Linked DNA regions of Homo sapiens: regions 1, 3, 4 and 5 are each reported to be linked to region 2. Evidence: microRNA targets listed by miRTarBase, many of them from high-throughput screens and not tested one by one. Region 2 holds a microRNA gene; each other region holds the end of a gene's coding sequence.

Evidence for each region. Region 2 holds the annotated microRNA hsa-miR-139-3p (UGGAGACGCGGCCCUGUUGGAGU, at 2,181-2,203, opposite strand). A microRNA usually pairs through its seed, bases 2 to 8, with sites in the 3' UTR of a target mRNA and lowers its output. Matches are read on the target gene's strand: a 7mer-m8 pairs with bases 2 to 8, a 7mer-A1 pairs with bases 2 to 7 and ends in A, and an 8mer does both.
Region 1: the mRNA of SUSD1 is a reported target of hsa-miR-139-3p. The part of its 3' UTR that is shown has no 7-base or 8-base seed match.
Region 3: miRTarBase lists WDR13 as a target of hsa-miR-139-3p. Seed matches in the 3' UTR shown: 7mer-A1 at 4,651-4,657.
Region 4: miRTarBase lists CCDC71L as a target of hsa-miR-139-3p. Seed matches in the 3' UTR shown: 8mer at 3,034-3,041.
Region 5: the mRNA of GZMM is a reported target of hsa-miR-139-3p. Seed matches in the 3' UTR shown: 7mer-A1 at 3,449-3,455.

Annotation. Positions count from the first base shown.
Region 1 is chr9:112,037,846-112,042,821 of GRCh38, reverse strand. It overlaps SUSD1 (sushi domain containing 1), which reads left to right. Exons shown (of 17, transcript NM_022486.5): 16 at 862-955; 17 at 1,330-2,039. The coding sequence ends at 1,330. It overlaps LINC02977 (long intergenic non-protein coding RNA 2977), which reads left to right and starts at 2,398. Exons shown (of 3, transcript NR_186812.1): 1 at 2,398-4,643. RefSeq lists enhancers at 191-260, 351-400, 512-1,150, 556-1,755, 1,151-1,790.
Region 2 is chr11:72,612,886-72,615,885 of GRCh38, forward strand. MIR139 (microRNA 139) reads right to left here and starts at 2,245; the gene lies at 2,178-2,245. The region is part of intron 2 of PDE2A (phosphodiesterase 2A); the gene reads right to left. LOC105369377 (a long non-coding RNA gene) reads left to right here. Exons shown (of 4, transcript XR_001748292.2): 2 at 1,207-1,417; 3 at 1,744-1,852. RefSeq lists an enhancer at 1,153-1,252.
Region 3 is chrX:48,603,337-48,608,312 of GRCh38, forward strand. WDR13 (WD repeat domain 13) reads left to right here. Exons shown (of 10, transcript NM_001347217.2): 9 at 936-1,054; 10 at 1,512-4,976. The coding sequence ends at 1,696. Among named protein-coding and RNA genes, the nearest start is that of WDR13, 8.3 kb to the left of the region's middle. RefSeq lists a silencer at 2,805-3,099.
Region 4 is chr7:106,656,856-106,661,831 of GRCh38, forward strand. CCDC71L (coiled-coil domain containing 71 like) reads right to left here and starts at 4,303. Exons shown (of 1, transcript NM_175884.6): 1 at 1-4,303. The coding sequence starts at 4,041. The coding sequence ends at 3,334. RefSeq lists an enhancer at 3,077-3,126 and a silencer at 3,477-3,746.
Region 5 is chr19:548,300-553,275 of GRCh38, reverse strand. GZMM (granzyme M) reads right to left here. Exons shown (of 5, transcript NM_005317.4): 3 at 4,599-4,734; 4 at 4,091-4,354; 5 at 3,354-3,646. The coding sequence ends at 3,485. Among named protein-coding and RNA genes, the nearest start is that of GZMM, 6.7 kb to the right of the region's middle.

The sequences.
Region 1 (4,976 bases), not on the chromosome of region 2:
TGTAAAGACCTGAGTTGTACTTAGCCACTCCCACCTTGGTTCCTTAAGGGAATAATAATAGTACCCAATGTGAAGGCTGGTTAGAAGCCTAAATGAGTGAATATTTGTGAGGTGCTTGGAACAGTGTCTGGCACATAGTAAGTGCTAAGTAAGTGTTTGCAAATTAAAATGAAATTTTTGCTCTAATCTAGAACATGATTCTCTAAGTCAGTCACTTGGCCCACATGTGCAACTCAACTGTGAGTGTTTTTTAGTTTATAATCGGGGATCTCCCTGGAGTTGGCATGTGATGGTCCCCAAATAGAAAGTATGTCTTTCAAAGTACTTTTATCCTCTCAGTAAACCTGCTGACCTGAGCAGGGAAGTATGACCCTTGTTGAGGTATGGAGAAAATGACAGGTGACTCAACAAAGGATATTCCTTTGCTCTATCTGACCATCAGGGCTATCAGTTTTGGAAACCAAATTCAAATAATATCATAATGACTTGTCCCTCCATGCAAAAGAAAACGGCCCATAAAAATCTATCAAATGTAATTGATTGTGAGAGGACCAACAAAAAATGTAACACGTTGCATAGTATTTGTGTGCTCAACAAGATTAGCTGTTTTCTCCCTTGTAACTTTAACATGGTCTGGCTTTACACTTCCTTTTCAGAAATACCTTGTAACTGTAATTTCCTGAGGCTGCATATCCACAGGGCCAACTCAGGGGACACACAGGCATGTTGGGCATTCTTGGGATTCTTTGTTAAATGGGGCCAAGCTCTGGGTTAAAATGGATTGAGCACAGTGGGGTGTGTGCCTCCTGGGAGGTGGTGATGCCGTGCACTCTGGGCTAAGCCTGTGGTTTTGTCCCACAGATTCGTCACTCATGCTGCTGCAGATGGCGGGTGTTGGACTGGGTTCCCTGGCTGTTGTGATCATTCTCACATTCCTCTCCTTCTCAGCGGTGTGGTATGTGAGGGTGTCATTTTTGAGAAATGACTGGAATGGAGGGGAGGATGGGTCAGAGTCACGAAGAACAGCTGGGGATGAGGGGAGTCAAAGGGAGTGTGGGTGGAGGTTGTCCTTGGCTCAGCAGAGCACACTCAGCGGTGAAAGGCATGACTAACCCTGTACCTCCAGGTAGCATGGGGGATGCCTTCCCAGGAAAAGAGCAGGACCAGTGATGGCTGCCCTGGCCACACACAGAGGGGTGGCTGAGCTTCCATGCTGCTCCCCCTCGCCTCCTCCCATGGGTGTGCGTGTGAGCTGTGCATAGAGATGCACAGTGGGAAAACCAAAGTGTGTTCATATTTGTCTCTTTTCTTTTCCTCCTCCATGTCTAGATGGCAGATGGACACTGAGTGGGGAGGATGCACTGCTGCTGGGCAGGTGTTCTGGCAGCTTCTCAGGTGCCCGCACAGAGGCTCCGTGTGACTTCCGTCCAGGGAGCATGTGGGCCTGCAACTTTCTCCATTCCCAGCTGGGCCCCATTCCTGGATTTAAGATGGTGGCTATCCCTGAGGAGTCACCATAAGGAGAAAACTCAGGAATTCTGAGTCTTCCCTGCTACAGGACCAGTTCTGTGCAATGAACTTGAGACTCCTGATGTACACTGTGATATTGACCGAAGGCTACATACAGATCTGTGAATCTTGGCTGGGACTTCCTCTGAGTGATGCCTGAGGGTCAGCTCCTCTAGACATTGACTGCAAGAGAATCTCTGCAACCTCCTATATAAAAGCATTTCTGTTAATTCATTCAGAATCCATTCTTTACAATATGCAGTGAGATGGGCTTAAGTTTGGGCTAGAGTTTGACTTTATGAAGGAGGTCATTGAAAAAGAGAACAGTGACGTAGGCAAATGTTTCAAGCACTTTAGAAACAGTACTTTTCCTATAATTAGTTGATATACTAATGAGAAAATATACTAGCCTGGCCATGCCAATAAGTTTCCTGCTGTGTCTGTTAGGCAGCATTGCTTTGATGCAATTTCTATTGTCCTATATATTCAAAAGTAATGTCTACATTCCAGTAAAAATATCCCGTAATTAAGATTGTTCTTCCCTTGGTTAATTTTTCTGTTACTAAGCGTCTTCTAAAAATGCTCTTTGCCCCCTGTTAGAAACTGAGATTTGGTGGTAGTGTAGTAGCAATGCTTAAAACAGTATTGAGCCCATGGCTAGACTAGAGTCCATGTGTGTTTCAGGGGAGGGGTTGCCATAGAGGGTGACACTTCTTTTATCTAAACTTCAGTAACTATGAATGTTACTCCATTATGAACTATGAAACATTAGATATAAGCGGTGCTGGACCTACTGTGAATATGCTAAGTTGACAGCTGGAGTCTATTTGATTTTACTTTTAAATCATGAATTGGCATTCTTTCCTCTTTTTTTTTTTTTTTTTTTTGAGATGGACTCCCACTCTGTTGCCCAGGCTGGAGGGAAGTGGCGTGATCTCAGCTCACTGCAACCTCTGCCTCCCGGGTTCAAGTGATTCTCCTGCCTCAGCCTCCCATGTAGCTGGGACCACAGGGCCCCCCCACCACGCCCAGGTAATTTTTGTATGTTTAGTAGAGATGGAGTTTCACCATGTTGGCCAGGGTGGTTTCAAACTCCTGATCTCAGTTGATTCGCCCACCTTTGCCTCCCAAAGTGCTGAGATTACAGGTGTGAGCCACACGCCCGGCACTAACTAACAATTTAACTCCAAGACTCAGTAAGAAACGAATGGGGAAGGAAAGACAGAGGCTTCTGGCATCTCTCCTTCTCCCTTGCCTGCTAGGCCTAGAGAAGAAAAACCATGGAGGAGGGGAGGTGATACTGCACAGCCTCAAGATGCAGCATAGACGAATGCAGTCCTTAGCAAAAGGAAAGGGCTTCCCAATGCAGTGGGCCGGTGTGTTCACCGGCTTGCTGGGTGTCAGTGAGGGAAGACTCTGAGTGCCTTGGGCTTATGGGCAGATGAAGAGACAAGAGGAACAAGTACAAACTGCCCATGTAGCTGCTCCACCCCAGGGAGTCCAGAGTGTATCCGCTCTATTGGGAAGAATTAGAGAGAGGCGAGTAATATCCTGACATTCAGGTGTTCAATGCCAGCTGTCAGCCTCTGGCCCCTGCCAGTGTTAGGAATGATTCCCCTGTCCTCTGGGGTACTGCCCTCCGACGACAACTTAGGATCAGCATTTAAAACCCTTTCTGCTCTCGTCTTAGGTAAATTATAGACCAGAACGGGTCTATAATGGGGACAGGTCCCCATCCTAACCCCCAGAGACCGTTTCTCTCAATAGATGAATACAAATAGCTCTCAATTTTTAATTTTTATGTGCAATAATGCAAACATACTTTTTTTTTTTTTTGAGACGGAGTCTCACTCTTTCTCCCAGGCGGGAGTGTAGTGGCGCTATCTCGACTCACTGCAAGCTCCGCCTCCCGGGTTCACGCCATTCTCCTGCCTCAGCCTCTGGAGTAGCTGGGACTACAGGTATCCGCCACCGTGCCCAGCTAATTTTTTGTATTTTTAGTAGAGATGGGGTTTCACCGTGTTAGCCAGGATGGTCTCGATCTCATGACCTCGTGATCCACCCGCCTTGGCCTCCCAAAGTGCTGGTATTACAGGCATGAACCACCACGCCTGGCCGCAAACATACATTTTTATAGCTCCTGAACTAAATTGGGTATCAATACAAATTACTGTGGTTAGTGTAGGGCTCGGCCTCTGATGAGTGAGGATCTTTCCTCAAAGCCCACCTTTGTCCAAAGAAAGAATCTGAGCCTCCCCTTGACTTATTTTATTTTTTGCCAGTTTTGTAAATGCTGTATGCTTCCATACTACCCCCTTCCCTAATTTCCACCTCTAGAATTAACTGCCAGAGATACAGTTGTCCACATGGAATGTAGTATAATTGTGATAGAAAGGAAGAAATCCCCCTTGCTTAGTATTAAAAGTTTCTGGTTAAAATAACTGACTAAATATTAAGTAAAACATCACCTTCTGGGTACAATGCAGAAAAGTAAAAGCAGTTCATATAAGATTACTAAACTTTGGGAGGTCTTCAAGACCAGCCCTGGCAACATAGCGAGACCCCATGTCTGCAAAAAAAGTTTTAAAAATTAGCCGGGCATGGTGGCGTGCACTTGTAGTCCCAGCTACTCAGGAGGCTGAGGCAGGAGGATCGCTTGAGCCCAGGAGTCTGAGGTTGCAGTGAGCCGTGGTGACACCACTGCACTCCCGCCTGGGTGACAGAGTGAGATCCAAAAAAATTTACTGAAATAACAAAAACGTGGACTTTGGGATTTCCTCTAACTGCTGCAAATTATAACACAGAATTGCTCAGTGTTAATACTTGAATTGTGGGGCCAAGTCTTCTGGCTGCCCTAGTTCTCTTTTCTGGCATTTGAAAGCCCTTGAGCTAGCTATGGAGCTAATCTTTGGACAGGCTTTTTGGTTCCCAGGAATGTCATGCCTTTGAATTTCCAATCTATATATATACAGTGTGTGTGTATGTATACCTGTCTTTTCACTGTAAGGCACCTCCACCCATCCCTTATAGAAGGAGCCACAAACAATCAAGCAAATGGATGGAGGTTAATTAAGGGGAAGAGGAAATAGTCTGTTCTCTGACTCGAGACCTGAAATTGCAGTGGGGCACGTAAGGTAAGACCAGAGCAGAAGTGATTATCTTGAAATTCCACTTTAGCTTGGAATAAAATTAATATTTAAATTGATTTTAAAGGAAATAAAAAAGAACATTCAGTGTTCCCTTTTCATTGCTAATCTCACATTTTCTGATTTTCTAAACCTTTTGTTTTCCCATTCTTTTCTTCTAAGAGGAACTCAATGGTCTCATAGAAGTCAATCAAATAGCGTTGTAAGAACCTTTTACCTACCACATCCTTTGTTGGTTAGACTGAACCAACAAAGCAGTGCCTGCTTCTGGGGAGGAAGGATGTGGCCTTTTCTGTGCCCCAGTTTGTGGGAGGGTGAGTC
Region 2 (3,000 bases):
GAGTCAGGCCTCCTCTGAAGCCAGGGTTGGGGCTCAGCCGTGGGCTAGATCTGCATTTCTGCACTTATCTGGGGAGAGGAGAGGGTCTGGACTAAATTACTTCTAACTCGTTCTTAAAGCCTAAGATTCTATGAAACCAGAGACCTTGGTCTTATCCCCTTTGGAGCCACAAGCACAAGACCAACGCCCTTCCTGAGGGTTGGGGTCGCTGCCATAAGATCTTTCCTGTTTCATCTTCATGAGTCTCTATGCCTTTCCCCATCTCCACAGGTCCTCCTATGGCTCACCCCACTGCCTGGCACTGGCTCCATGCCTCCTTCTCTGGAAGGAAGCCTCACAGTGCCCCTCACACTGGCCTACAGGAAGGCAATAACATCAAACTCAAGAGTCAAGTACCTCCCAAGGTCCGGCTGTGCTCTTGGGACTGTCCGTTCACACTGATTCATGCAACTCTGCTTGTGTTAGGTCCTCTGTGAGGCCCTCCTCTCTCTCTGGGCCTTGGTGTCCCCTTCTGTAAAGGGAAGGGTCCTTCTAGATCCCCCAGGACCTCGGAGCCCTCTCATTCTCTGTCCATCATCCCTTCCCTTCCTTTCGGGTGGACCTCCCTGCCTTCCTCCCTGCCTCCCCCGGCCGACGTCCACCTCTGTCCCAGGCTGCACTCCTGTTCCTCTCCAGGAGTCTTGACGTCTTTTCCCACCTCCGCGTCCTCTCTTCCTCTCATAGCTTCTCCTCCCACTCTCCATCTCTCTCCTGCATACTTCCTGCCCCCACCTACTCCTGTGTCTCCAGCCCACTCCTCCCACAAACCTCCAAATAGTCACCTTGAGAACACTGGGAGAAAGCACCTAACTCAAGAGAAGCGCCCACAGAATGGGAAACCCAGGAAGGCAGCTAGAGGGGAAACAGGGGGTGCCAGGCAAGTGTCATCTACGCCTCTTTTGCTTCCTGCCTCCTGTTCCGGTGGGCAATATACACAGCCTCTTATCTTCCCAGAGGACAGGGCCCTTCAAGAGCACAGGAGAACGTATCGACCTCTGTGCCTAGCATGGGTCTGGCACTAGCAAGCACAGCCGCCCAGTCAGGGTGACTGGCAGAACTGCCCCAAAGGAGGCATCCTGTAGGCTCAGACCAGAGAAGCCCGCTTCAGCTGAGCCTCGGCCCCTGGCCTCAGCCCAGCACCCAAGCTGACTCTATGCCTCCTCGCAGCCTTACAGCACCCCCAGCCTGCAGAGTCAGAGACAAGAAAGCAGAACAAGGCGGTTCCTCCTCCTTCCTCCCCACACACCCACGCCTGCCACCTGGCCAAGGAGACGCCTCTCAAAGACACTGGTGCCTTGGATGTGCAAAGAGGAACTGCCTGTGAGTGCGAAGATCTTGCAGCCCCAGACTTCTCTCAATGAGGCTGAGCTGGATCAGGGTGAGGAGAATAGAGGAAAGAGGCTTGGCAACCCTTGGGAGGCTTAGTCTGAAGGAGGAGGCAAGACAGAGACCCAGAACGCAGCTGAACTAGCCCAACTGTCAGTGTCATGCTTGAGTGAGGCATCAGGCTTTGGGGAGGGGAAGGTACCTTTCCCAAGCACCTCCTGTGGCTAGAGGTTTCCACCAGCCGTTCCCCAATTTTCATGTGCACCAGAACCACCCAGAGTGCTTGTTAAAGTGCAGATTGCTGGCCCCACCCCCAGGGTTTCTGATACAGTAGGTCTGGGACGAGGTCCAAGAACTTGCGTTTCCAAACATTCCTAGATGACACTGATGCTGCTGGTCGGGGGACCACACCTCGAGACCCACTGACACTATCTTGGATCCTCCTACAAGCCCAAGAGGTGCCTGTTTGGGTCATCCCATTGTACAGGTGAAGAGGCTAAGGACTGGAGGGGAGGGGCCTTGCTCAGGTGAGAACAGCCAATGAGGGGACGCCCCAGGGAAGGTCCCAATGGAGGGGAGAGGCTGGGGGTGGAAGGACAGAGGGAGACTAGTGGTGGGGAGATATGGATAACAAGGCAGTATGGACGGGGCCACTCGCAGCGCAGGAGCCCAGTCTTAAAGGAGGGACCTGCCAGAGACCTTTCCTCCTCCCTCTTTCTCTTCCTCCCCTCCCTCCTCTACTTACCCCCTCCCGCTCCATGCCCCCATCCCTCCACCCTCCTGCCCACCCTTCGCAGACTCCGGCTTCAGTTGTTACTCCAACAGGGCCGCGTCTCCAGCCTCCGAGCCACACTGGAGACACGTGCACTGTAGAATACACCTGAGCCAGTCCCAGTGCCTCCCAAGGGTGTCCCCATCCACAGGAGCCTGACCCCACACTGTTGGCTCCTCCCTTCCAGCGCCCACAACCAGCTCCGCCCCGGCCTCTCGCCCTTCCCAAGCCAGTCCCAGCTTCTATTCCAGCTCCTGCCTCCTCCAAAATGACCTCCCGGTTGTCCCCCGCACCCTTGGATCCATCAGGAGCTAGGTTTGGGGGTGGATGAAGGAATGGGAAGAGGGAAAGAGCAGGAGAAGGCAGGCAAGAGTTGCCTGCACGATCAGTTCCCTGAGGGCCTGACTCACTGGAATCACCTCAGTCCCTCACCCAGAGTCTGGAGTCAGGAAAGGAGGGAACAGTCAGAGTGGGTAGAGGGAGGGAGGCAGGAGCTGAGTGTGGGGAGGGGGAGGATGGCCCTGCAAGGCAGACATCAGATCAAGCGGGGCAGAGCCAGCTCAGGTCTCCTCCCACCCCCTCCCACCTTCAGCTGCTTCATCTACAGGGAAGAACCGAGAGTGGTCCCATTTCTGCTGCCCACATTCTCCTGGACACCACAAACTTCCTCCCAAACACATCACAGCATCCCCCTCTCCATGCCATCACAGTCATCCTGGTCACCTGGCATTCTAGCTATCCTTGTCCTCTGGCCTGGGGCCCACGAGGCAGCTCGCGGCAGTCACAAGGAGGCAGATTTGGGCACACTGTGAATCAGAGTCGCGCCACAAAAGAGAGCCTGAGCAGGATGGATGAGGGGGCTC
Region 3 (4,976 bases), not on the chromosome of region 2:
AAAGACGTTTTAAAGAAATGGCCTTTTCCGGCCAGGCACAGTGGCGCACTCCTGTAATCTCAGCACTTTGGGAGGCCAAGGCGGGTGGATCACCTGAGGTCAGGAGTTCAAGACCAGCCTGGCCAACATGGTGAATCCCCGTCTCTACTAAAAATACAAAAATTAGCTGGGCATGGTGGCAGGCGCCTATAATCCCAGCTACTTGGGAGGCTGAGGCTGGAGAATTGCTTGAACTTGGGAGGCGGAGGTTGCAGCGAGGCGAGATCGTGCCATTGCACTCCAGCCTGGGTGACAGAGCCAGACTCCATCTCTTAAAAAAAGAAAGAAAAAAGAAATGGCCTTTCCTACATTTCGAGTTTCTCACCAGGCAATGCCTTGTGGAAACCCCCCCAGGTTACCTGTGGGGACAGTGTTTTATTCTCTCTAAGGGCTGTGCAGTTTTCCACAGTGTGGGCATACCATGGTGTGTTCATTTCCTCTCTTTGTGCTTATCTTAATACCAGGATCTTTTAGAGACCCTTACAAAGAAAAACTAGTGAATGAAACTGCAGAGGCTCCCATTTATATCAACAGAGACAGTTTCTGAACCATCAGTAACTCACACATCAGCCCCTACTTATAGTTTATGTAGTCATCTCAGAATTGGGTTTCATAAGCTGGGTGTGGTGTGTGCCTATAGGTAGTCCCGGCTACTCGGGAGACTGAGGCGGGAGGATCACTTGAGCCTAGGAGGTTGAGGCTGCAGTGAGCCGTGATCGCACCACTACACTCCAGCCTGGGTGACAGAGTGAGATCCTGTCTCAAAAACAAAAAAAAAAATATGGGTTTCATGAACCCTGTAAAGAACTTAGGCACAGGGGTGGGGACACAGGCCCACAACTTGTCTCCCTGCTAGGGCTGGGGCTGTGTTTTGACCCACTCTCTCATCCTCTCAGGGTGGTAGACAACGAGGGGACCCTGCAGCTGAAGAGAAGCTTCCCCATCGAGCAGAGCTCACATCCTGTGCGCAGCATCTTCTGTCCCCTCATGTCCTTCCGCCAGGGGGCCTGCGTGGGTGAGTCCTGTAGGGACAGGGGATCTGGGTGGCTGGGGAGGGGCAGGAACCAGGGCTGGTGCCAACCTGGCTCAGACATCACGACACCGATGCCCTGACTTCCTGGACCTCATGACCCCTCCTGCCCCAACAGCCTCACTGTGGAACTCACAGCTCCAAACAGCTCAGAGAACTCACAGTTTGCACTTGATCTCGGCCAAAAGGCCGAGAAGTGATGAAAACTCACACTTTGAACGCACTAACTCCCCAAACAGCCCAGAGACCTCGCATTCTGCACACAGTACCAAAACAGCCAGGTGACCTCCCATCTAGGGATGGGGCCCCCTCAAACCTCCCCAAGCCATGCTAGGACCTCACACCTCGGACATACACCCTTCAACACCTCAGACACCTCAGGGACTTCCCACCAGGGGCACCCCAGGCGCCTCCCGATGGCCTCTCCCTCTCACCCCGACAGTGACGGGCAGTGAGGACATGTGCGTGCACTTCTTTGATGTGGAGCGGGCGGCCAAGGCTGCTGTCAACAAGCTGCAGGGCCACAGTGCACCTGTGCTTGATGTCAGCTTCAACTGCGACGAGAGCCTACTGGCCTCCAGTGACGCCAGCGGCATGGTCATCGTCTGGAGGCGGGAGCAGAAGTAGGGTCCTGTCGGCCCTGCTGCTGTCCTCCATCCCACCCCTCTTACTCCAGCCTCGTGTTGTAAATAAAGTTTCGGTGGTCATGCTGAGGGCCGGCTCCCAGCTCTGCCGGGGACGGACAGGGCAGAGGGCAGCGGGCAGCTCCAGGAACACGGTGGAACGGGGTTCATTGACTCATTTGTGCATTCATGCATCGACGGATTCATTCATTCCACAAGCATTGATTGAATGTCTGCTGGGTTACAGGCCCTGCCTTAACTGTTTTACACACTTATGCATTCGATAGACATTAGTGAGCCCTGACCGTGTGCCAGGAACTGTTCTAGGCACTGGGGATACTGCTCTGACCTAAACTGATGGAAATGCCTGCCTTCATTGGGCTTGCATCATAGCGGAGACAGTAGATAAAAACATGGAACAGGCCAGCTAATGATGAGTGGTATGAAGAAAATAAAGCAAGGATGGGAGACAGAGCTGCAGAAGTTGGGGGAGTGGGCTCTTTATGGTGACAGCATCAGGGAAGATGATCCTGACAGGGTGACTTTTTTGTTTTTGAGACAGGGTCTCACTCTGTCACCCAGGTTGGAATGCAGTGGCATGACCATAGCTCACTGCAGCCTCAACCTCCAGGGCTCAAGTGATCCTCACTTAAGCCTCCCAAGTAGCTGGGACTACAGGTGTGTGCCACCACACTCGGGTAATTTTTGTATTTTTAGTAGAGACGGGGTCTCGCCATGTTGCTCAGGCTGGTCTTGAACTCCTGGGCTCAAGCGATCCACTCGCCTCAGCCTCCCAAAGTGCTGGGATTACAGGCATGAACCACCACGCCTGGCTCAGGGTGACATTTAAAGACCTGAATGAAGTGAGTGGGAGTCATAGTGTAGGGGGAGAACATTCCAGGCAGAGAGAAAGCCAGCCTAAAGGCACTGAGGCTGGAGCGCTCCAGAAGGATCATTGTGTATGCCAGAGTCTTGCTGGACCAGAGTGTGACAGTACATGAGGTCAGACAGGCCAGATGCTTCATGGGCCACAGTTAGGACTTTGGCTTTTTTTCTGAGTGGGGGTGACCAGAAGGTGTCAAGCAGAGGAGGAACATGATCTGACTTGGTCATAGAGGCTCCCTCTGGCTGCTGAAGGGGACAGATTGGGGGTGGGGGTAGAAGCAGGGGACCCAGCAGGAGACCCCTCTGAGCGCAGTGATGGGGACTTGCACCAGGGTAGTGACAGTGGAGGAGTTGGCGGGGGAATGTTGGGTCGGACCCCCAGGGGGTTCACTATGTTAGGCTGCAGGACTCTGCTGCCTCCTCAGGGGGCGATATTCCCAACCCTTCTGTGCATTGTGTTGTTTATTAAAAGCAGGGAGCAGAGGTGTTGAGTCCTGGAGCCCCAAGCTGGTGCAGGAGCAACGGGAAGTTAAGGCTGACCTGGGGCCTCCTGCTGTGTGGCGGAATCTCCATCCCTCAGACCACCCCTGTCTCCTCCCAGCCCCATCCAGGGTACAAATTCCAGCCCTGGAACAGCTCAGAGACCAAAAAGTGATGTTAAGTATTTGAGGGGAGCCCCAAGAGAGGAGAAAAAGCTTTGAGTATTGATGGGGGTAAATAACCAAAATCACTTATCAGTGGCCTGCGTCACCAGAAAATGTCAAAGTTACCTGAAGCAGCAAAGAGGCTCTTGCTCCGGCCCCTCCCTTCCTTCTCAGCTCCATTTGTTGCCACATATGCGTTGACTGGAACTGCGACTGACATCTTGGGACCTTAGGGTCAGTCCACAGCGTGGTAGAGACTCCAGCTTGGCCCAGCATTGCTGAGCTGCTGAACTCGCACCAACAGTCTTGTTGGAGGGAAATAATCTCCCGTTTGTTCAGTCCAGTTATTTGACAGTGTGGTTACTTGCACCCCAAGCATTTCTAACTGGCACTTCCATCTAATAGACCTCAGGGTACATGGTGGTGAGATAGGGACATCAGTGAGCTGGATTGTTCCCATGGTAAAGGTCATGTATGTGTGTGTGTGTCATGGTCCTCAATACCAGCCCCAAGCCCAGTGATTTGCTAGGAGGACTCCCAAGACTCAGTATGTGGTTGTATTCATGGCTACGATTGACTTATTACAACAAAAAGATATGGAGCAAAATCAGCAAAAAGAAATGGTGTGCAGGACCAACTCCCAGAGAGACCCAGGCACAAGTTTCCAGGGCTTCTCTCTCATTGGAGTCACACAAGATGTGCTCGGTTCACAGTAATGGGTTGTGACAATACATGCGAAATGTTGCTGACCAAGGAAGCTCAATTAGAGACTCAGCACCCAGAGGTTTTTTTTGTTGTTGTTGTTGTTTTGGTTTTTTTTTGGCGGGGGGGGGGGGGTCTTGCTCTGACGCCCAGGCTGGAATGCAGTGGCATGATCTTGGCTCACTGCAGCCTCCACCTCCTGGGTTCAAGCGATCCTCGGGCCTCAGCTTCCCGAATAGCTGGAACTACAGGCGCGCACCAGCAAGCTCGGCTAATTTTTGTATTTTTAGTAGGGATGGGGTTTCACCATGTTGGCCAGGCTGATCTTGAACTCCTGACCTCAAGTGATCCTCCCACCTCAGCCTCCCAAACTGCTGGGATTACAGGCGTGAGCACCTGGCTGGTATCAAGTTTTTATTGGGGCATGGTCACATAGGCACCCCCTGCCTGGCACCTACCCAAATCCCAGGCTCCCAAAAGGAAAGCAGGGGCTCAGCATAAACCACCTTTTTTTTTTTTTTTTTAATTGAGACGGAGTCTCGCTTTGTCGCCAGGCTGGAGTGCAGTGGCGTGATCTCGGCTTACTGTAACCTCCGCCTCCTGGGTTCAAGCAATTCTCCTGCCTCAGCTTCCTGAATAGCTGGGACTACAGGCGCCTGCCACCACCACGCCCAGCTAATTTTTGTATTTTTAGTAGAGACGGGGTTTCACCATATTGGCCAGGCTGGTCTCCATCTCTTGACCTTGTGATCCGCCTGCCTCGACCTCCCAAAGTGCTGGGATTACAGGCATGAGCCACCGCTCCTGGCCCACTTTTTTATACAAACAGCTTAGGTAGAGTAAGCCATTCTTTTTTTTCTTTCTTTCTTTTTTTTTTTTTTTGAGACAGGGTCTCACTTTGTTGCCCAGGCTGGAGTGCAGTGGCTCAAACATGGTTCGCTGCAGCCTCAACCTCCCAGGCTCAAGCGGTCCTGCTGCCTCATCCTCCAAAGTAGCTGGGACCACAGACATGCACCACCATGACCCCAGCTGATTTTTGCAGAGATGGGTTTT
Region 4 (4,976 bases), not on the chromosome of region 2:
CCAGGGAAACACTTTGATTCCATTACAAACAATTGTTTTCTAATGCGCTTAAGACATAACACTCTATCAAAAAATATTTTAAACACACCAATAAATATTAGGCATGTATGTCCATTAAAAACCATTAAAGAGTCCTGTGGCAATCCTTAAAACAATGAAAAACTTTTGAGTTCAAAATTGCTCAGATATTTTGTATTCAAATATTTTTAAAATTTACTTAAGAGTTTTCTAAAAAATAGTACTATCATTTGCACACAGCAGATCAATAGGTGTCAGTCACCAGCTTAAGTTACACTTGTCAATATTCAAACTTGAATAAAATAAACACACATCACAACAGCGACACTTTGCACTATCAACAATGAAGCTTGCCCTCAACAATTATGACGTTACTGGTTTTAGTAACATAAAAATACATTGCTGGTTGACAGGAAGGATAAAAATGACATCAAGAATCTCAAAAAGTTATGTGAGGTGCCGGTCACCACATTTAGGCACTCAGGAATTAAAAATCAAATAAAAGCATAGCGAGGTGATGAATTTCCTCCTGGCTTCCCCCTCTACTTGTGCCATATGAGATAAAAGAGAAGGCAAGAGAATGAACGAAGATCATGAGATTTCTTTCAAAAACTATACACAAGCTAAGCTACAGACTTCACTTCAGAGGAGTAAGTGGATGCCTCATTATAAAGGCCACTATGCCAAGTTTCTTTTCACATTCTGTGACAAAGTACCCATGAAATACTTTCACTTTCCTATTAGTATACCAGTCAACTATATTAGATGTTGCTTCACATTTTAAAAGTTGTCACATAGGTTTTTACCAAAGGGCAAAAATAAAGATTTTTTACATCTTATTTCACAGACTAGAAATGGCATAATTTTTGAATAGTCCAGATGAATACCATATTGAATTCAAGATGGACAATCAGATCCAAAATGGAATCAGATAGCCCATGTAATCCAAAGAAGCATTTATGTGAGTTCAAGTATGCTAAAGTAACAAGGCATAGGAGAGAAAAATGTCAAGAATCTCAGTTAAAATAAATGAATGGTGTCAGTGGTTATGTTTCAGTGGTGTGCTGAGCAGTTATCCTCCCAGTTAAGCCAAATTTCAAAATCCTCTGGAAAACTATCTAGATAAGCTGTATGTCGAAATTGCATTCTAATATGGCCATTGGGTTTATTTTTCATTATTATAAAACTATATACAATAGTAAAGTTGTACAAATACATTTTTTCCAGGTGCTAGTTAGCTATAAAAGTTAACAATATATTTTTGGGAAGAAAACCCTATGCATCTGAAATACAATTGGCAATGGAAGCTAATAACCAAAAGATATGTCTAAGCTTCCTATCACAAATATAATTTAACACTCTCCATCTTCTAAGGAATTATTCATTTTTATTTACTCATGTGACAGTGTTTGTACAATGCATTATCATTGAGTAGTGAATAAAAGACTGAGGCTTACTAGAAAACTGGCATCAAGTTATATATATGTGTGTATATATATATCATATTATTTCTTTTAACAAGAACACTGAAATTGAAGTCACAACACTCCTATACGGACTACTAAACTTGAAATACTCATTTCAGAAAGCTATGCCATTTGAATTCTAGGAACGCAAGAGTCAAAATTGTAACTCTCATTATTCTCCTAAAAAGCTGCCAAGCAGAGATAAGCTTTAGTATTAAAGATTTCACATGTCAAGTTCCAGCCCAGTATGGATCGTTTCATGGCAGAATACTTAAATTTGAAATAATAGTGGTACAAAAACACTACTTGACCCTTTAGGTATTGCAGTAAAAGCTGGCTGTGGCACTGCTGGCTAAAAACTATTAAGTTTTCCTGCCACAAATGACCAAAGGCACTTGGATAATCAAGAATTCCACACTGGGCCATATGGTATAAACACTATAAAAGCGTAAAGAAGGGTCAGTATTCTGTGTGTCTCGCCTGTTTGATTCCTGTGGTCTTCAGCTGTCAAAGACCTAGAACTGCAAACATATAATGAGTGGCAAAAAGGTTAAAAAAAATGTTGGGACAAAAAAATCAACTAAAAATCAACTAATTTTCATTATGTTTGTAAAACTGATGAATATTAGTCTAGACATTTCTTGTTATCCAACAACAAAAACAAAAAGGAAATAGATTTCGCCCAAAGTAACCTTAACCAGTTATTTGATACCAAGAAATGCCTCCACCCCTCTTGATCATTAATAGTTCTAAGAATTCTAATGGGTATTCTGTTTATCATTTTAGTGATAATGTTTACACACATCCATCTCTCCTATGCAACTCCCATTTTAAAATACATTATCCTTGTAAAATACATTACAAGGATAATGTATTTTAAAATACTTTAACGCATAATATTCCTAGATTTGTATGTTAGACCAGGACAGGGGGCCAAATCATCTCCAGTCGGATTCCAGTGACTCCTGTAACCAAAACCAGTTCTTCACAATTTATTCATTTTTTTTAATCACACACCATATGGTTTCAATGCATTTTTTTATTCAATTCAAAAGAATTTAACAAGTTAACTTTTCCTAAACAAAAGTTTTCATGTGTATTCTACCATTTTTAGGAGCTCAGTAAATATAAACATTGTTTCAATACAAAACCTTTAAAAATACCTTGAAAATGTTTAAACAGTTGTATTTTGCATGTCTTTGTTTGTAATCACTGAGCCCATACAAATCCTTGCACTACTAACAGTCACAAGCTTGAACCTCTTAAAAAATATCCTCGATCAAAGCTTTGGAATCCAGTAAAAATTAGGAAACGAGTGGGCTTCAGAATACCCTGAGCACAAACTAGTGCAACACCACATGTTCGAACTTCTGTCCACAAAGAGGGGTGACAGTGAAATAGAAAAAGGGGGAGATAAAGAACAAGTAAATTCTGGCTTTATTACACAAGCACGAAACCAAATTCCTTTGGAAAAATAATGTCTTCGGAGGACTTCCAGACCAGTGAGGTAGAGTCCAACAGTGAGAAAACGGATCTGCCCCTAAGGTCCTGGAGACGTCTCAATCGGTGGTCAGGAAGAAAGGGACCTCCCCTGCGGGTCCAGCTGTCCCCTCCCTCCGCAGGCCGGGTACGGGAGGCAGCAGAGGGCACACCTGCCCCAGCGTCCAAGACGACCGCGCCGCGGCCCGGGACAGGGACAACCATCCGGCAACTTCTTCGCGCGTAAAGTGCATTGGGGGCCGGGGTCCTGGCCGGATCTGTAAACACTCGACTGACACTTGTTCATTCCTCCGGGCGGAAGGCCTGTCCCAAGGTCGGGGCCGGCAGGAGGCGCCCTGGAGGCCGCACCTCATGCCCGGGGCACCGGGAAGCGGCGGAGCCTCACCATGGGTTCCAGGTTCACTCGCAGGACCTGGCGCGCCCTGCGCCGCGCTGCCGCCAGGCTGCGCTCGCCCCACACGTCGCTGCCGACGCGGATGGTGGGGAAGGTGGTCAGCGTCGGGGTGGCCGCCCTCCAGATCTCCTCCAAGGTGCGGCCCCCGAAGCAGGGCCCGGGGGCCACGGGCTTGGCCGGGCAGCTCTCCTCGGGGGGCGGCGGCGGTGGGGGTGGCGGCCGGGGCTTCCTCCTGCGGGCAGCGGCCGCCCGGGCTCCGCGGCGCCTCCTCCTGGCCGCTGCGCGCGGAACCGGCCGGCGCGCCTGGCCGCGGGCTGTAGGGGGCCCCGGGGGGTCGGGTACCAGGGCCCGGCAGGAGGAGTAGCCGTAGACGTCCTTGCTGCGCAGGATGTGCGGGGAGAACTGGTGCTTGAGGCTGCAGAGGAAGCTCCAGAGCTCCGCGTCCGAGCTCATGAACTCCGTGCTGCGGGGCATGAAGAGCTTGAAGGCGTCGCCCAGCGCCTTGGTGCTGTCAGCCAGCGACAGTTGCGACCGCGAGTACACCACCTTCTCCTCCCGCGCCTCCAACCCAGCCCCGTCTTCTGCCCTAAAGTCGCCGCCCCGGGCGGCCGTGGCCGGGGCGACCGGGCGCCGGCGCCGCCGCCTCTTCATACTGCGCCGCATCGAAGGCCGCTCCGGGCCACTCACGCTCGCCGGGTCCCACTACTGCCGCCGCCGTCCCAGTCCGCGTTGGCTCCGCGGCGGCGGCTGCTGCTGGCGTCTCTCGCTACTTTTCTCGCCTCCGCCGCCGCCCCTCCCCCTCCGAGGGCGGAGGACGCGGGCGAATATCCTGCTGCCCGGTACAAGATGGCGGCCGGCGCCCACCCCTGGGCTTTGTCATTGGACGGCGCCTCGCCCCCCTGGTTTCTCTTTCTTCTCCTCTCTTGCCTCTTTTCGCCGGCTGCCTTTCTTTAAATGTGCCCGCCTCAGGCCCCTCCCACCGCAGCCCCGACTCCACCCATTGGGTGCTCTCAGAAGAGGGGCGGGGACTGATGGGGGAGAGGCCAGTTCCTGGAAGATGGTGCTGGGGTGGGTGATGGCCTTTGAACGTAAGTCAACGGTTGGGTGGATCTAGGAGGGCTGCCACGTCTAGAGTAAGAGGGTGGATGTTGGCTACACCATGGGAAGAGTGACTCTTAGAGTGAGGGGGTGTGCAGTTGTGGATTGAGCTGGGAGCTCTACCAGTGTGGATAACAAAGGGAGATTTCCCTGAAGGATGTTCCTGGTATCATCACAGCTAGGGAATTTGGGTTTAAGTCTAGGGGAAATGGGCCTTTCGCAATTCCCATCCACCCTCTCAAAGGCCTCTTCTGGCATCTTCATTCAAAACTCTTCCCTGTCTTGACCCCAGCCCATCTCAAGAAGCCAGTAGTAATCCAGAATCATTCAGGTAATGTGCGTGGCTGGCAGCTGAGAGATTTTAGTCTCCCTCTGGACACTGGAGCCATCTTCATATTTAAGAGAGACCCTGCTTATCCAGAAAGCAAAACATGTCATACCCTATAAAACTAAATACTCTTTGCTCAAGTTGATCAAAGATCTATTACAATAAAGCCATT
Region 5 (4,976 bases), not on the chromosome of region 2:
GGCGTGGTGGCGGGCGCCTGTAGTCCCAGCTACTGGGGAGGCTGAGGCAGGAGAATGGCGTGAACCCAGGAGGTGGAGCTTGCAGTGAGCCGAGATTGCACCACTGCACTCCAGCCTGGGGGACAGAGCGAGACTCGAATCTCAAAAAAAAAAAAAAGAGACTGGACTTGGGTACTTGGCTAAGGAGGGGCTTCGGGGCAGGGGGTTGTGTCTGGACCCAGGTGCCGGGAACAGGGGCGTGCCTGGTTTGTGAGTTATGAGGCTCTTCACTTGTGACCTGAGAACCTTCCACTGCCAATGATGCCATAAAAAGTTAAAGATTAGGCCGGGCGCGGTGGCTCACACCTGTAATCCTTTAGGAGGCTGAGGTGGGAGGATTGCTGGAGCCCAGGAGTCTCTAAAAAAATAACATAAAAAAATTAAAAAAGTTAAAGATTAAAAATGCACTTGCCTCTCCCAAAAACACTGTGACTCCAGTCCAATCGAGAGAAAAACATGAGATAGCTGGCGGGTGCAGTGGTCCACACCCGTAATCTACATAAATCCCGTCCAGCCGGCCTCCAGACACGGAGTTCTGAGAAACGGTCGGAGCCTGGGGGTGCCGAGGAGAGGCTGCGGCGAAACGGCAGGTTCGGTCCCGGGTGGGACCCTGTGCAGGAAGAGACATTAGGGGAAACTGAGGAAATCCGAGCCAAGAGTAGGTCCTTAGTAGTTAATCACGCATTCATGTGAGTTCGTCAGCCGTGACTCCTGCTGACTGGAGAGGGGAGCGGCCAGGAGCCTGGGGGCGGGGACGCGGGGGACCCTGTGGATACAGCCGCCACACATCTCCTGCAGACCAAAAATGGTTTTAAAAATTAAGTCTATTACAACACTAACCCGGCCGGGCACAGTGGCTCATACCTGTAATCCCAGCACTTTGGGAAGCCGAGGCGGGTGGATTATTTGAGGTCAGGAGTTCGAGACCAGCCTGACCAATATGGTGAAACCCCGTCTCTAGTAAAAATCCAAAAAAATTAGCTGGGCTTGGTGGTGGACCCCTATGATTCCAGCTACTTGGGAGGCTGAGGCTGCACTCCAGCCTGGGCAACAGAGTGGGAACTGTCTAAAAATAAAATAAAATAATAAAAAACCATTAACGTGGGCACAGTGGCTCATGCCTGTAATCCCAGCACTTTGGGAGGGCGAGGTGGGCGGGTCACCTGAGGTCAGGAGTTCAAGACCAGCCTGGTCAACGTGGTGAAACCTGTGTTTCTATTAGTCTCTACTAAAAATACAAAAAAAGTTAGCTGGGCGTGGTGGTGCACGTCTGTGATCCCTCAGCTACTCAGGTGGCTGAGACACAAGCATCGCTTGAACCTGAGATGGCTTGCAGTGAGCCGAGATCGTGCCACTGCACTCCAGCCCGGGTGACGCACTGAGACTCCATCAGAAGAAAAGAAAGGAAAATAAAAGAAAAAAAGAAAAGAAAAGAAAGAAAGAAAGAAAGAAAGAGAGGAGGGGAGGAGAGGGGAGGGGAGGAGAGGGGAGGGGAGGGGAAGGGGAGACGGGGAAGAAAGGAAAGAAAGGAAAGAAAGAAAGAGAGAGGAGGGGAGGGGAGGGGAGAGAAGGGGAAGGGAGGGAAAGAGAAGAAGGGGAAGGGAGGGAAAGAGAAGAAGGGGAAGAAAGGGAAGAAAGAAAAGAAAAGAAAGAAAGAGTTGGTAGTGAAATTAAAAGATTCTGCAGGAAAACAGCGCGGCGCTGAAACAGAGTCACTGAACAGCCCGAGATGCCACTCCCACGGGTCTAATCTGGAGGGAGGAAGGAGCAGGTAGGTCCACACGAAAACGCACACAGGCGGCTCCCAGCAAAGCTTCAGACGGACGGACGCAGACGAAGCCGCCCAGATGTGCACCCAGGGACGCACCCACAAACGCAGCGAGGCCCCCCTCGAGCTGGAGCTCGACCCCCCGGAGCAGGAGCACGGCTCGGACCCAGCCAGCGCGCGGGTGCAGCTTGAGGACGTCACGCTCAGCGGGAGACGCCAGACACAGAAGGCCACGCAGCGTGATCCCCTGTCCATGAAATGTCAGCACAGGCCCATCCAGAGACAGGGAGGGGATGTGAGGGCACCGGGGCTGGGGTGGGGACGGGGAGTGACGGCCGATGGGGACGAGCCTCCTTTTGGGGTGCTGGGGTGACAGTGGGGACAGAGTCTATTTTCGGGGTGCTGGAATGACAATGGGGGTGGGGCTTCCTTTTGGGGTGCTGGGGTGATAGAGATGGGGCCTGTTTTCGGGCTGCTGGGGTGACAGTGGGGACAGGCCTGTTTTCGGGCTGCTGGGATGACAGTGGGGACGGGCCTGTTTTCGGGGTGCTGGGGTGACAGTGGGGACAGGGCTGTTTTCGGGGTGCTGGGGTGACAGTGGGGACAGGCCTGTTTTCGGGGTGCTGGGGTGACAGGGGGACAGGCCTGTTTTCGGGGTGCTGGGGTGACAGGCCTGTTTTCGGGGTGCTGGGGTGACAGTGGGGACGGGCCTGTTTTCGGGGTGCTGGGGTGACAGTGGGGACAGGCCTGTTTTCGGGGTGCTGGGGTGACAGTGGGGACAGGGCTGTTTTCGGGGTGCTGGGGTGACAGGACTGTTTTCAGGGTGCTGGGGTGACAGGGGACAGGCCTGTTTTCGGGGTGCTGGGGTGACTGGGGACGGGCCTGTTTTCGGGGTGCTGGGGTGACTGGGGACGGGCCTGTTTTCGGGGTGCTGGGGTGACTGGGGACGGGCCTGTTTTCGGGGTGCTGGGGTGACTGGGGACGGGCCTGTTTTCGGGGTGCTGGGGTGACATGTCACGGTGGTGGTTGCCCAGCTCTGTGCAGGTACCAAAGGCCCCTGAATCGCAGTTTACAGGGAGACTCATCTGCTATGTGAGTTGTAACTTGATAAAAGCTGTTACTAAAAAAGAAGATCCTGGGATGCTGTTCAAGGCCCAGCCCCAGGAGCCACGCGGGGAGGACGGCCGCCCACCCCTGCCAGCCTGCAGACCCGGCCACCGCTCCAGTCCTGGCCAACGCCGCCCCCTCCTGGGAGAAGCCTTGGGATCCACAACCTCCCTTTTTAAAACAGGGAAGGGCCGGGCGCGGTGGCTCACGCCTGTAATCCCAGCACTTTGGGAGGCCGAGGTGGGCAGATCACAAGGTCAAGAGTTGGAGACCAGCCTGACAAACATGGAGAAACCCCTTCTCTACTAAAAATACCAAAAGTTAGCCTGGCGTGGTGGCGGGCGCCTGTAGACCCAGTTACTCGGGAGGCTGAGGGAAACAGGTTTGTCGGAAGCCCCACAGCCAGCATGGACAGAGGTGGGCTGGGACTCAGGCGGGCTCTGAGCGTTTCTTCATTATGATTTATTGGTCCCTCCCTGTCCCTCCCACCCGTCCTCACCCACCCCACTGCACCCCTGGAGGGGAAGGGTCCTGTGGAGACAGCGAGGGGGTCCCCATCACCCCAGGGCATCAGGCCGATCGGCCGGTGACCTTCCTGATCCAGGACACGTAAGGCGCCACAGCGGTGGCCACGGGAGGCTTGAAGATGTCAGTGCAGACCCTGGAGCTGAAGGACAGGACTCTGGCCAACACCCGGCCTTTGCCACACACCAGGGGCCCGCCCGAGTCACCCTGCAGGGACGACACACCGCAGCTCAGCCTCTGCACCTGCTGAGGGGACGAGGGGAGCAGGGCCCGCCGAGGGGAGCAGGGCCAGGCCTGTTATCCCCAGGCTCAAGGAGACACAGGGGCTGCTCCCGGCCCACGCGTGTCCCCTCCCCATCTCCCGCTGGCCCTGTGAACCCTGCTCCTTCTTCCCCCGCCGGACCGTCTTGGCTGGAGCAGAAGTCACAGCTCTGCCGCTTCCCGGCTGTGTGGTCTTGCGCAGGTTGCTAAACCTGTCTGAGCCTCAGTTTCTGCACCTGAGAAACGGGACCCCTGCCAGTGCTTCCCCGCCCCCCAGCCCCTGACAGGACTCCCCAGAGAACGGGAGAGCCAGGAACCTGCCCGGCGGCTGCCCTGGCCCCGGCCCTCCCGCCAGCCTCATTCCCCCAGCCCCACCCGGGCGCCCCTCACCTTGCAGGGAGCCTGGTCCTTGGAGTCGGCCGCCAGGCAGACCATGCTGGGGGAGAGGCTGCCGTTCCAGAAGCGGCTGTTGTTACACATGCGGGTGTCCAGCACTTGGAGGTCCAGCTCCCGCAGCACCCGGGACAGGCGCCCGCCCTGGTGGGTCAGCCCCCAGCCGGCCATGCTGCACCGAGTCCCTGCTGCCACCACCTGGCGCTTACTGGGCAGGGCCAACGGCCGGATGGTCCGGCTGGGCTTCACTTTCCCGTCCAGCTACGAGTGACAGGAAGGGGCAGGTGAGCAGGGGGAGGGGGTGAGAGTGCGGGGGCGGGGGGCGGCAGCGGGGGGAGGGGTGGCAGTGGGGGGAGGGTGGGCAATGGGGGAGGGGGCAGTAGTGCGGGGGGAGGGGCAGCAGTGCGGGGGGAGGGTCGGCAGCGGGGGGAGGGCGCAGTGGGGGTGAGGGGCACCCGTGGGGGACAGGAGGGTGCCCAGTTCTCCCTGTCCCGTCCCTGCACACCTGAAGCAGCGCGAGGTCGTTCTCCAGGGCAGGGACGGGCTTGTAGCGAGGGTGCTGGATGGCTGCCTTGATGTGGAAGGTGAGACCGGGGCTGTCCAGGGTGTGGAGCCCCAGCACCAGCCTCAGCTGGGCCATCCTGGGGACAGAGGGAATCAGGGTGCTGCGGCCTGGCCCGGCGTGGACGACCCGCCACATGCAGTCCCGGCCCCCACTGTGCCCGTTGTCCATGGCCATCACTCACAGCCGCTGCCCCTCACAGGCCTTGGCTTGGCCAGTCCTTCCCTGTGTCTTTGCAACCCACCTCCTCCAGGAAGCCCTCCCTGCTCTCACCCCTGCCCCAGACTTCTGCCCGGCCCTGGCCCCAGGCAAGGGCTGTGT